Homo sapiens: one gene and its partners. The protein of the gene in region 2 purifies or fractionates together with the protein of the main gene of each other region. This does not show direct contact. Each region holds a gene or a part of one and is shown on either strand. Other genes may lie near its edges.

Evidence for each region.
Region 1: the proteins of SQLE (region 2) and SLC18A2 purify together in Homo sapiens (co-immunoprecipitation; one large-scale study listed by IntAct). This does not show direct contact.
Region 3: the proteins of SQLE (region 2) and GPR107 purify together in Homo sapiens (co-immunoprecipitation; one large-scale study listed by IntAct). This does not show direct contact.

Annotation. Positions count from the first base shown.
Region 1 is NC_000010.11:117,268,458-117,272,116, forward strand, and holds part of SLC18A2 (synaptic vesicular amine transporter), read left to right. Parts: intron 1-1,613; coding exon 1,614-1,733; intron 1,734-1,872; coding exon 1,873-2,006; intron 2,007-3,659. UniProt on the Homo sapiens protein: Electrogenic antiporter that exchanges one cationic monoamine with two intravesicular protons across the membrane of secretory and synaptic vesicles.
Region 2 is NC_000008.11:125,001,395-125,005,053, forward strand, and holds part of SQLE (squalene monooxygenase), read left to right. Parts: intron 1-1,781; coding exon 1,782-2,034; intron 2,035-3,659. UniProt on the Homo sapiens protein: Catalyzes the stereospecific oxidation of squalene to (S)-2,3-epoxysqualene, and is considered to be a rate-limiting enzyme in steroid biosynthesis.
Region 3 is NC_000009.12:130,060,381-130,064,039, reverse strand, and holds part of GPR107 (protein GPR107 isoform 3 precursor), read right to left. Parts: intron 1-3,659. UniProt on the Homo sapiens protein: Has been proposed to act as a receptor for neuronostatin, a peptide derived from the somatostatin/SST precursor.

The DNA of each region.
Region 1 (3,659 bases), on a different chromosome or scaffold from region 2:
CTGCCTTGCCTCCCCTTGTCCTCCACTGTCTGGTTGGCCCATCTTTTTAGGGAGGGTGCTAGTCCTCTGGCGGCTCCCCTTGCCATTCTGCAGGTCTGGCAGAGTTGCAGGTTGCTAACTGTACGGCCCCTGGCCTGCATCCTTTTGGTGCTTCCCTGCTTTGCTGTTTTCTGGTTCACTTGTCCCTCACCACTCAGCACACCTGCATGCCTGACCCACCTCCTGCCAGTCACACCTGGGCCACACGCTTAGACTATGGGTGTTTCCAAGGTGGAGAATAATAGGGGGGACCAGAACGCCCCAGAACTCCAAGGAGTCCGAGAGATCATCTGGCCCTGCTCAGAAATTATGTGTGTGTATGTATGTTTATGTGTGTGTGTGTGTGTATGCATGTGTATCCATGTATGTGTGTGTTGTGTGTATGAGTGTGTATGTGTGTGTTGTGTGTATGTGTGTGAACTAAAAGAAGCTAAAACACACATGCACACACATACATACACATACACACTCATACACAAACACACACATTCATACACACAAACACACATACACACACTGACACACGCATACACACACACATACACACATACACCCCCCACATAAACACATACACATACACAAATATACATACACACATATGCATACATACATACACGTAGATACACATACACATACAAACACCCACCCACATACATATGCACACATACACACATACATATACACACATACACACACACCTACACACATACACATACACACACATACACAAATACAAGTACATACACAAACACATATACACAGACACATACACATGCAAACACATGTACACACATATATACACATACATACACAGATACATATATACATATACATAATACACATACACACATGCATACACACATATACATAGACATACACAGATACATATATACATATACATACATACTCATAAATACACACATATACATACAGACATACACCCCAGCAACAACCACGACCAGCATTAGAATCTCGTCTCTTGAATAGTGGGGAGCAGGTAGCATAAAGATGGTGTGTGTTCAGAGTTCCTGGCTCAGACTCCCTGGCTCAGTGAGTGTGGTCAAGCCTCGCCTCTCTGAGTATTGGTTTCCTCATCTATAAAATGGGGATGCTCATGATTGGCTGCTGTGAGCCAGTGTCTGTGAACACACTGGCAGGGACTCAGAGGTTGGTGCCCTCCCCTCCACATGTGTCAGTGGCAGGCACATGAGGAAAGTTTCTTTCATTGAAATGGTGCTTGCTGCTTCCTAATATGTACAAGTGCTGGGGATATGGGTGAACAAAACCAACAGAAGAGTTGGGCATTTAGCAAAGAATTGAAGAATGAATGACAATTGAGATGATGCTGTGAGAGAACATCTGTATACGAGGGGAACCTGACCTCCTCTGGGGGTCAGAAAAGGCTTCCTTCATTCTTTCTACTCAAAGATTAGTATCACCCCAAGACTTGCAGGTGGTGATGACAGAAGGGGAAGAGCTGGCAGGGTGGTGAGTTTAAGACACACTCCCTGATATTCGGCCCATTTTGGGTTTACATCCGTTTTCTATACACTGTGTTCCCTGACTGTCTTCAGGAATGGTGGATTCGTCAATGATGCCTATCATGGGCTACCTCGTAGACCTGCGGCACGTGTCCGTCTATGGGAGTGTGTACGCCATTGCGGATGTGGCATTTTGTATGGGGTATGCTATAGGTAAGGACATTGGCTTTTCATAAGAACCTTTTACCTCAATACGTAATGGATAACGTCTACTAAAATTGTTTAAATCTTTGCATCTTTCAGTCTACAAGACATTTGGAAGAGCTTTATCTAATTCTCTGTTTCCTGAAAGGTCCTTCTGCTGGTGGTGCTATTGCAAAGGCAATTGGATTTCCATGGCTCATGACAATTATTGGGATAATTGATATTCTTTTTGCCCCTCTCTGCTTTTTTCTTCGAAGTCCACCTGCCAAAGAAGAAAAAATGGTAAGAAAAATTTAGGATGCAGTGAGCATTTCTTGATAATTTTAGCATGGCCTTCCTGATAGCTTCCTCATGGTTTCATTCTAAAGCCTTCAAACATAAATGGTGAGAATTCCTTTTTAGTTTGTACCACATAGAGCAGTTACTTCTTTTATTTTTTTATTACTGTGAAAGTTATTTCTTTCAAGCTTATGTTTATAAACTGGGAGAATGAAATTATTTTTGTACATAGATTAGCATCAGTGTTGCTCTTTTGTCGACCAAGTATAAACCTGGAATCATTCAATTTGATTTTCTATGGTTCTTGAAAATCTTGGACACAATCTTTCTGCCTCCTGTACTTATGCCCAAGGTTAGCCATTTGTGGTGCTGTTGCTTTTCTCATAACCCTTACAGCATTCAGTAATAGTTGCTGTCTTGTCTTTACTGTATGTAGGATTTTAGAGATGATTTTACGATTTTTATGGAAAAATCATTGTATATGGACTTTGGGGTATATGTGAACACACAGAACGATTTAATTCATAACTTTATGACCAAAATTATAGCCATAGGCAAGATACAGAGTATAAAGCATCCCTCTTTTGAAAAAGTCCAAATTAATTGATTCAAAATTTGAATTTTGAAATGCATGAGTCATTTTAACCTTTCTAAGGTATTTACCTTACCCAGCAAGGAGACGCTCAGTGTTTCTGATCATCTTTCTTATCTGGTGTTGCCAGTTTTTAAAACAGCAAATGCTGATAGGTACTTGTCCAGGTGAAAGGAGAGTGTCTTGGATTAAGGATGAATGAGGTGAACAAGAGGACATGCATTTTTGTGTTTGAATAGATGTGAGGTTTGTTTGTAATGTTCTCTTGGAAGTACATCAGAAGGTCTTTCTGACAGTGGAACTGAATGCATCTTAATGCTTTGGCATTTCCTGAACTGCCCTTTGATGCTTTTCCCCAAAAGGAGATTTAAAGACAAACCTTAAAATAAGGTTATGTGCAGCCTGTGTTTGTCTTGGGTGTTTTTTACATTCATTAATTCATTCCACATATTTTAAAATATATCAAGCACTGGGCACTGGCCTTGTGCCCTTTATTTTAAATAGGATTTAACTAGATACTTTTGAGTAATGCATGGCCCGTCTGACTCATGGAAAAGGTATGGAAGGTGCTGTGGAAATAACTCAGACAGAAGCCATCCCCTTGTCCTTCCCTCCGCTTGCTTAGATGCTTCCCCAGCTCTGAAAACCACATCACCTTCTCAGACCTCTCTTAGGAGACATCTGCTTTCCAGCTTGGGTGTGTAAATTTCAGATGCATCTTTGCTTGGCTGACCCTAGCATAATACCTTGCCGAAATGGAGTCAGAAAATTCTCAGCACAAATGCAAACTGCCATTCTGTTGCCATGATAACAGTTTAAGGCTGAATGGAGGTTACTCAATGTTTTTGACCAAAAAAAGTATATATGTGTGTATATGTGTTTGTGTGTGTCTGTGTGTGTGTGTATAAAATCACCTACAAATGCTCCTGTAGCCCAGGAAACTGTTTGAAGACTCCTGGGAGATAGTTAGGGCTAGCATGGGCCTGGGAGCCACACTGGCCCCACCATGTAGAGGCTTATGAGTCTTGGTTTCCTCCTCTGTTGCATGGAGAAATGATAACGTC
Region 2 (3,659 bases):
ACTCTACTGATCAGGCTCTGCAAGGCCTGTTTTCCTCCAGAGCTCTCCTTTCAGGGTGTGTGTGTGTGTGTGTGTGTGTGTGTGTGTGTGTGTGTATATAAAACAGGAAAAACTTATGAAGAAGCACATTTTTGGTTAAGATGACAAAAGGGGCTTGTCTTGCCCCCTACAGTAATTTAAATATAGTCAGTTCTGGCCATTAAGACATACTAATGGGAAGAGTAGAATATTGAGATCTTCCCATAGTAAAAGGACAGAAAAGTATTTTTCTGAGAGAAATTAAAAAAAAAAAAAGAATAGACAAATTCCCAGTCCACTATAGAGGTAAAAGAATGCTGGGTGGATATTAGAATCACAGAGTAAAGTTCTAAAGGATTTTAGGCTTCGTCTTCCTTTTTGCTTGATTATTTTTTAAAAACCCCTTCAAATGGCATTTAGTCTTATCTTAATCATTAAGGTCAAAGAACTCAAGGAAGGTGGTTCCTTGCAATTCTGTATCTGAAATGTATTCAAATGTGTGAATCCATCTACCAAGAAGAAATACTACAAAATTGAATTGTTCATTTTAAAAAGCCACTGTGCACTGTTGTTCTTAGTGGTCATAAATCTCTCAAAACAAGACTTTGCATCTTTTTATGATCAAAGTTAAAGTTTTGCTGTCAGTTCAGCCAGTGACAGGTTTAATGTTTTTCCTTGTTCCTTTTTTGGGGACCACCTCTTTGACTAGGATCTCTTAGAGTATCAGGATGGGGAAAAAGGAGGGATAAATTAAATATGTGCTTATATGTTAAGGACCAAAATTGTAAACAAGTCAAATCTAAGAGTCGGTATGAGTTATTTCTTCTCTTGTAATTTTGTTTATTTAGATAATCTTCAATTAATAGATTGGTAGGCAGGATTTGACAATCCTTTTGTCATATAAAAGTGATATTAAATTAACATAGATTTTTCAAATGAAAATCCAGAAAGAGAAAATAAAGATGAATAATGAAAATATCTAAGGCCGCACGCAGTGGCTCACGCCTGTAATCCCAGCACTTTGGGAGGCTGAGGCAGGAGGATCACCTGAGGTCGGGAGTTCAAGACCAGCCTGACCAACATGGAGAAGCCCAGTCTCTACTAAAAATACAAAATTAGCCGGGCATGGTTGCACATGCCTATAATCCCAGCCACTCGGGAGGCTGAGGCCAGAGAATTGCTTGAATCCAGGAGGCGGACGTTGCAGTGATCCGAGATTGCGCCATTGCACTCCAGCCTGGGCAACAAGAGTGAAACTCAGTCTCAAACAAACAAACAAAAAAACAAACAAAAAAAAGAAAATGTCTAAAAGGTGCCGAATAGTTTGTAACATGAACTCAAATCAGAAGTTGTAAGTGATTTGCATCTTGTCGATTCCCAGGATATATTTGAAGAATTTAGTTATTAATGATACAGTTTGCCCTATAATAAGTCTTTGAAGCCCCTTATAAACATTTATTATATTCGGCCCAGTGTGGATTTCTAAATATGTCTGTATAACATTTTCCAAATATCATGTTTAGAAAACAATAAATATTTAATTTTATTGGGATAATATGACACACTTTTATTTAACGAATATTTTGATATCATTGATTTTTATATATTATCTAGATTTTAAAATGTAACAATTTGTTTGGTTTGATAATATTTAGTATCTAGCTTTAGCCTAGGATGCAAAAGTCCAGTGTGTCCACATAGCGGTAGCATGATTTGAATCTAACAAATTTGGATACCTAGTTTACCTTTTTTTTTTTAAACAGCGCAGAAAAGGAACCAATATTTCAGAAACAAGCTTAATAGGAACAGCTGCCTGTACATCAACATCTTCTCAGAATGACCCAGAAGTTATCATCGTGGGAGCTGGCGTGCTTGGCTCTGCTTTGGCAGCTGTGCTTTCCAGAGATGGAAGAAAGGTGACAGTCATTGAGAGAGACTTAAAAGAGCCTGACAGAATAGTTGGAGAATTCCTGCAGCCGGGTGGTTATCATGTTCTCAAAGACCTTGGTCTTGGAGGTAGGTTCATATTGATTTTCAGGAGAGTTACGTGGTATGAACAAGCACTCTTCACTTAGACCATCCTATGACCAGTAAGAAGGTATTCCATTTTATTTTCATTTATAAAATTTTCTATACTCATTTACCAACAAATTTGCATGAAAGTGAGAGCAAAGGATAAAATAAGCATTTAATAGTATGATTAGATGTGAATTAGACTTAATGAGATATAATAAAATGGCCAAAAGATTGTAATGGTCAAAATTAAGGACTGGAAAATCCTAGAATGAGGGCATTAAATTTTGTGAAAGGCGAAGGGAACTGTCATTTGTAGAGGGTATGTTGTATACTTGTTACAGTGTTATTACTTAGAATCTTTTATTTAAGCACCATTCATCCATTCAACCAGTGCTTTTTAAGCACTGGCTATTCATTTAGGAAATATTTATGCACTGTCTACTTTGTGTGGGGATGGGGTGGTGGGGTGGGGTGGGGTGGGGAAGGTGGGAGAGACACAAAGAAGCAAGCCCTCCCCTGTCTTTTTTTCCAAGGGCACTAATCCTATCGTGAGAGTCTACCCTCATGACCTAATCACCTTCTAAAGGCTCCATCTCCAAATATCATCACATTGGGGATTAGAGTTTTAGCTTAGGAATTTTGGGAGGACACAGACATCCAGTCAATACCATATTTGAACATTTTATGTCACTAATATATATACTAGAGTCCACTTTTTCACTTGACAGAAACATATTTCCAATACTGTTAACCATTCTTTATCAGTATCTTTTTAAGCCCAAGCATAGTTGTTTTTCAGTTGACTTCATAATGTACTTCACTTTTCAAACTTAGATGAATGTTTAGGTTATTTTCAGTTATCCTTTTTTAGGTAACACTATAGTGAACCTATTCTTGCATGTAACTTTAAAGATTATTAAATATTATGTCTTTAGGATGAATTTCTTACATGGATTTCCAAGAGTAAGATTATTACATCGAAGGATGCTAATTTCTTCATGGTTCTTGATAATTATTGTTATATTTTCTAAAATATAATATTAGTTCATAGTATCACCAGTAGTATATGAATTTATCAGTTTTATCATAATCTCATCAGTGATTTTGATGGTGTCCTGTTGTTTCAATTTTTACTTAATTTTTTTTATCGTTTGAACATTTTTTCTGATTTGTTCACTGTTTCTATATTGCTTTATATGAATCATCCATACATGTTTTTGTCCATTACTATTGGCGTCTTAATATTTTTCCAGTGGTTTTTAATGAGTAAATTTTATTATATATACATGTATTAATCTTTTGTTCTATTTCATATGTCTTTCCCAAAGTATTGTTTTAGTTTTTATTTTTAAAATTAATTTTTTAACTTTCTAATTTTCGGTTGGCACTTTAAAAATGTGATATTTTCTATTGAAAGTTTTTTATTTTTCAACTGCTTTTGCTGCTTTAGATTTAAGAAAGAAGTTTTTACATGATTCTGATGAATTCAGTGTTTTGTTTGCTGCCATTTAAATTATTTGATGTACTAAAAAGTTCTTTGCAGTTTGTCCTGAGTCACTTTTAATGGATAGTATGTAATCATCAACAGTTGGGGGATAACTCTACCCTTTCCATTTGGTTTGGAA
Region 3 (3,659 bases), on a different chromosome or scaffold from region 2:
TGAGGTCAGGAGTTCGAGACCCGTCTGGCCAGCATGGTGTAACCCCGTCTCTACTAAAAATACAAAAATTAGCTGGGCATGGTGCCGCATGCCTGTAGTCCCAGCTACTTGGGAGGCTGAGGCAAGAGATTCACTTGAATCTGGGAGATAGAGGCTGCAGTGAGCCGAGATCGTGCCACTGCATTCCAGCCTGGGTGACAGAGTATGACCCTCAAAAAAAAAAAAAAAAGAATAAACTCCATGAAGAAAAAAATCTATACAGTAGTAGTAAAGGGAAGCAATACAAAGGAAAAAGAAAAAAAAAGACAAAGCAATCACTGGAATTTCCCAGGGCTGTTTTATTAAGAAACCCCAGCAATCAAATATTTTATTATACTACACTGGTATTTTCAGAAGGAAGCACACTGGCATACATGCCACCAAACAGCAGTCACTAAAAAAGGCATGTTTGATGTGGAGTGTGGAAACTTGAATAAAGAAGAAAAACAAATAATAGGAAAAAATAATTAAAAACTGAAAAAAATTTTAAATAATTTAAAAAGCATGTTATAGCCGGGTACGGTGGCTCATGCCTGTAATCCCAGCACTTTGGGAGGCCAAGGCGGGCAGATCATGAGGTCAGGAGATTGAGACCATCCTGGCTAACACGGTGAAACCCTGTCTCTACTAAAAATACAAAAAATTTGCCGGATGTGGTGGCAAACGCCTGTAGTCCCAGCTACTCGGGAGGCTGAGGCAGGGGAATGGCATGAACCCGGGAAGTGGAGCTTGCAGTGAGCTGAGATCATGCCATTGCACTCCAGCCTGGGCGACAGAGCGAGACTCCGTCTCAAAAAAAAAAAAGCATGTTATATTTTTATGTATACACACATGCTAAAGAGCAGCTGCTTAATAGATATTCACACTTAAAAGAGATGAAACCCTGAAATGTCTGTTTAAAAAAGATCATTTACAGTGTACACTGAGGTTAGGAGTCATTCTAGTTCAAATACGCCAGACATTGGTATTAAAATAACCAAATCTTCCCTGTCTTATCCTCTCATAAAGAGTTCAGGACCAAGGTGGTAGGAGTGCTTGAGACCAGGAGTTCAAGACCAGCCTGGACAAAGTAGCAAGACCCCATCTCTACAAAATATCCACATAAAAAAATTAGTCAGATGTGGTGGTGTGCACCTGTAGTACTAGCTACTAGGCAGGCAGGCTGAGGCAGGAGGATCCCTTGAGCCCAAACGTTTGAGGCTGCAGTGAGCTATGATTGCACCACTGAGTTCTAGGCTGGGTGACAGAGTGAGACACTCTTATTTAAAAAAAAATAAAAGACGGATGGACAGACAAACGGAAGGAAGGAAGGAAGGAAGGAAGGAAGGAAGGAAGGAAGGCAGGCAGGCAGGCAGGCAGGCAGGCAGGAAGGCAGGAAGGCAGGCAGGCAGGCAGGCAGGCGAAAGAGCCACCATGCTATATCATAACTACCTGTCTATGGGCCTGTCTCATTTGTATATCTCTAGTGCCTAGCACATAGTAGGTATTTAATAAACGTTGAATGAATGAACTACTACTTAGATCAGTCTACTACTCAGTGCTATTATTATTATTATTATTATTATTATTATTATTATTATCATTTTCGAGACAGGGTCTTGCTCTTGTCACCCAGGCTGGAGTGCAATAGCGCAATCTCAGCTCACTGCAACCTCCGCCTCCCAGGTTCAAGCAATTCTCTTGCCGCAGCCTCCCGAGTAGCTGGGATTACAGGCATGCGCCACCACGCCGGCTAATTTTTTGTATTTTTAGTAGAGATGGGGTTTTACCATGTTGGCCAGGCTGGTCTCAAACCCGACCTCAGGTGATCTACCCGCCTTGGCCTCCTAAAGTGCTGGGATTACAGGTGTGAGCCACCGTACCCAGCCTCAGTGCTATTATTTTACATAATTTTATCTAATCCTCATAACTACCCTGTGGGAAAGCTACCATTATCCTTATTTTACAAAGTAGGAAACTAAGAATCCGAGTGGCACACGAACAATCAATCTCTTTCACTTCCTCTTCCAGACATAAGCTCTAACCTCATTTTGCCTTGGCTAATGCTTTTTTTTTTGAGACAGAGTCTCACCCTGTCACCCAGGCTGGAGTGCAGTGGTGCAATCTCGGCTCACTGGCCTCACTGGCCTACCAGGTTCAAGTGGTTCTCCTGCCTCAGCCTCCCGAGTAGCTGGGATTACAGGTGCCCATCACCATGCCCGGCTAATTTTTGTATTTTTAACAGAGAAAGTATTTCACCATGTTGGCCAAGCAGGTTTTGAACTCCTGACCTCAGGGGATCTGCCCACTTTGGCCTCTCAAAGTGCTGGGATTACAGGCGTGAGCCACCACGCCCGGCCTGCCCTGGCTAATTCTTACTCTTCCAGTCTCAGCTTTAATGTCACTTCTTCAGGAAACTACTTCCCTATGCCAAAAACCAGGGCAGGTTCCTCATCACGCAGAATAAAATCCACACATCCTACCATGGCCTCCAGGCTCATGTGTACCTCTCCCCTAGATCACTCTGCTCCAGCCATAGGGGCCTCCATAGACATGGGAACATGAAGATGCTCCCACTCAGGGACTTTGCACTTCCTGTTCCTCTGCCTGTGATATTCTTCCCTAGACCCTCAAATGCCTGGCTCATTCATTAAGTCCACTCACATATTAACTCTTCAGAGTCTCTCTCCACAGTAATTTCCAATTCCATTACTCTTGGTTCCAATACTGTTTTATTTTCTCATCAATTTATCCCATTTTTAAATTACTTGTGCATTCAGGTGTTTAGAAGCTAGCTGTCCATTACCACTAGAATGAATACTCCACAAAGGTCGGGGCTTAGTCCCGCTCACTGCCTCAGCCTGTGTCTAGAAGTGCCCACCCGGTATATAAAAGACACCTGAAGAGTATTTGTTGAATGAGTAAGAGACAGAAGGCATGTGTTGCGAAGTCATCCAGTAAGCTTAATGTCACTCATTTAAGTCAATGAATGTATATTGGCAGATTTTAAGTCAAAATAAAGTTTCAGGTGCATACTCCTTTTGTGTGATGTTCTGCTTTAACTTATCTTTTCATCCAACATCTTCTAGTCTAGATCCCATCAGCGAGGAAGGCTTCTAATATGACTAGCCCAGAAGTTACACTGCACTCGACAGCAGTGAGGACTGGCTATTCCCAAGTTCTGCTCTAAACTACATGCCTTGCTAAGCTGCTGACACAAAGTCTAGAGTATTTGAGTTATAATTTGTGGATAATTATCATAGAAGTATCAAACCCAAGAAATGCCCAAATTTCTGAGGCTTTAGCAAAGCACTTCCTGTCCACTTGCTCATTTGCAGCATCTACTTGAAAGCCAGAATGATCAGTCATCAAAATATTGTGTTTTTAACACAATATAAAAATCATATTTAGACAATTTTTGATGTAAAACTCAGATTAGCCGAGCACAGTGGCAAGCATCTGTAGTCTTAGCTACTTTGGAGGCTGAAACGGGAAGATGGCTTGAGCCCAGGAGTTGGAGGCTATCGTGCACTATGTTTGCACTGGTGAATAGCCACTGTACTCCAGCCAGGGCAACACAATGAGACCTTATCTCAAAAAAAAAAAAAAAAAAAAAAAACTCGGATTATCATTTTTATTCC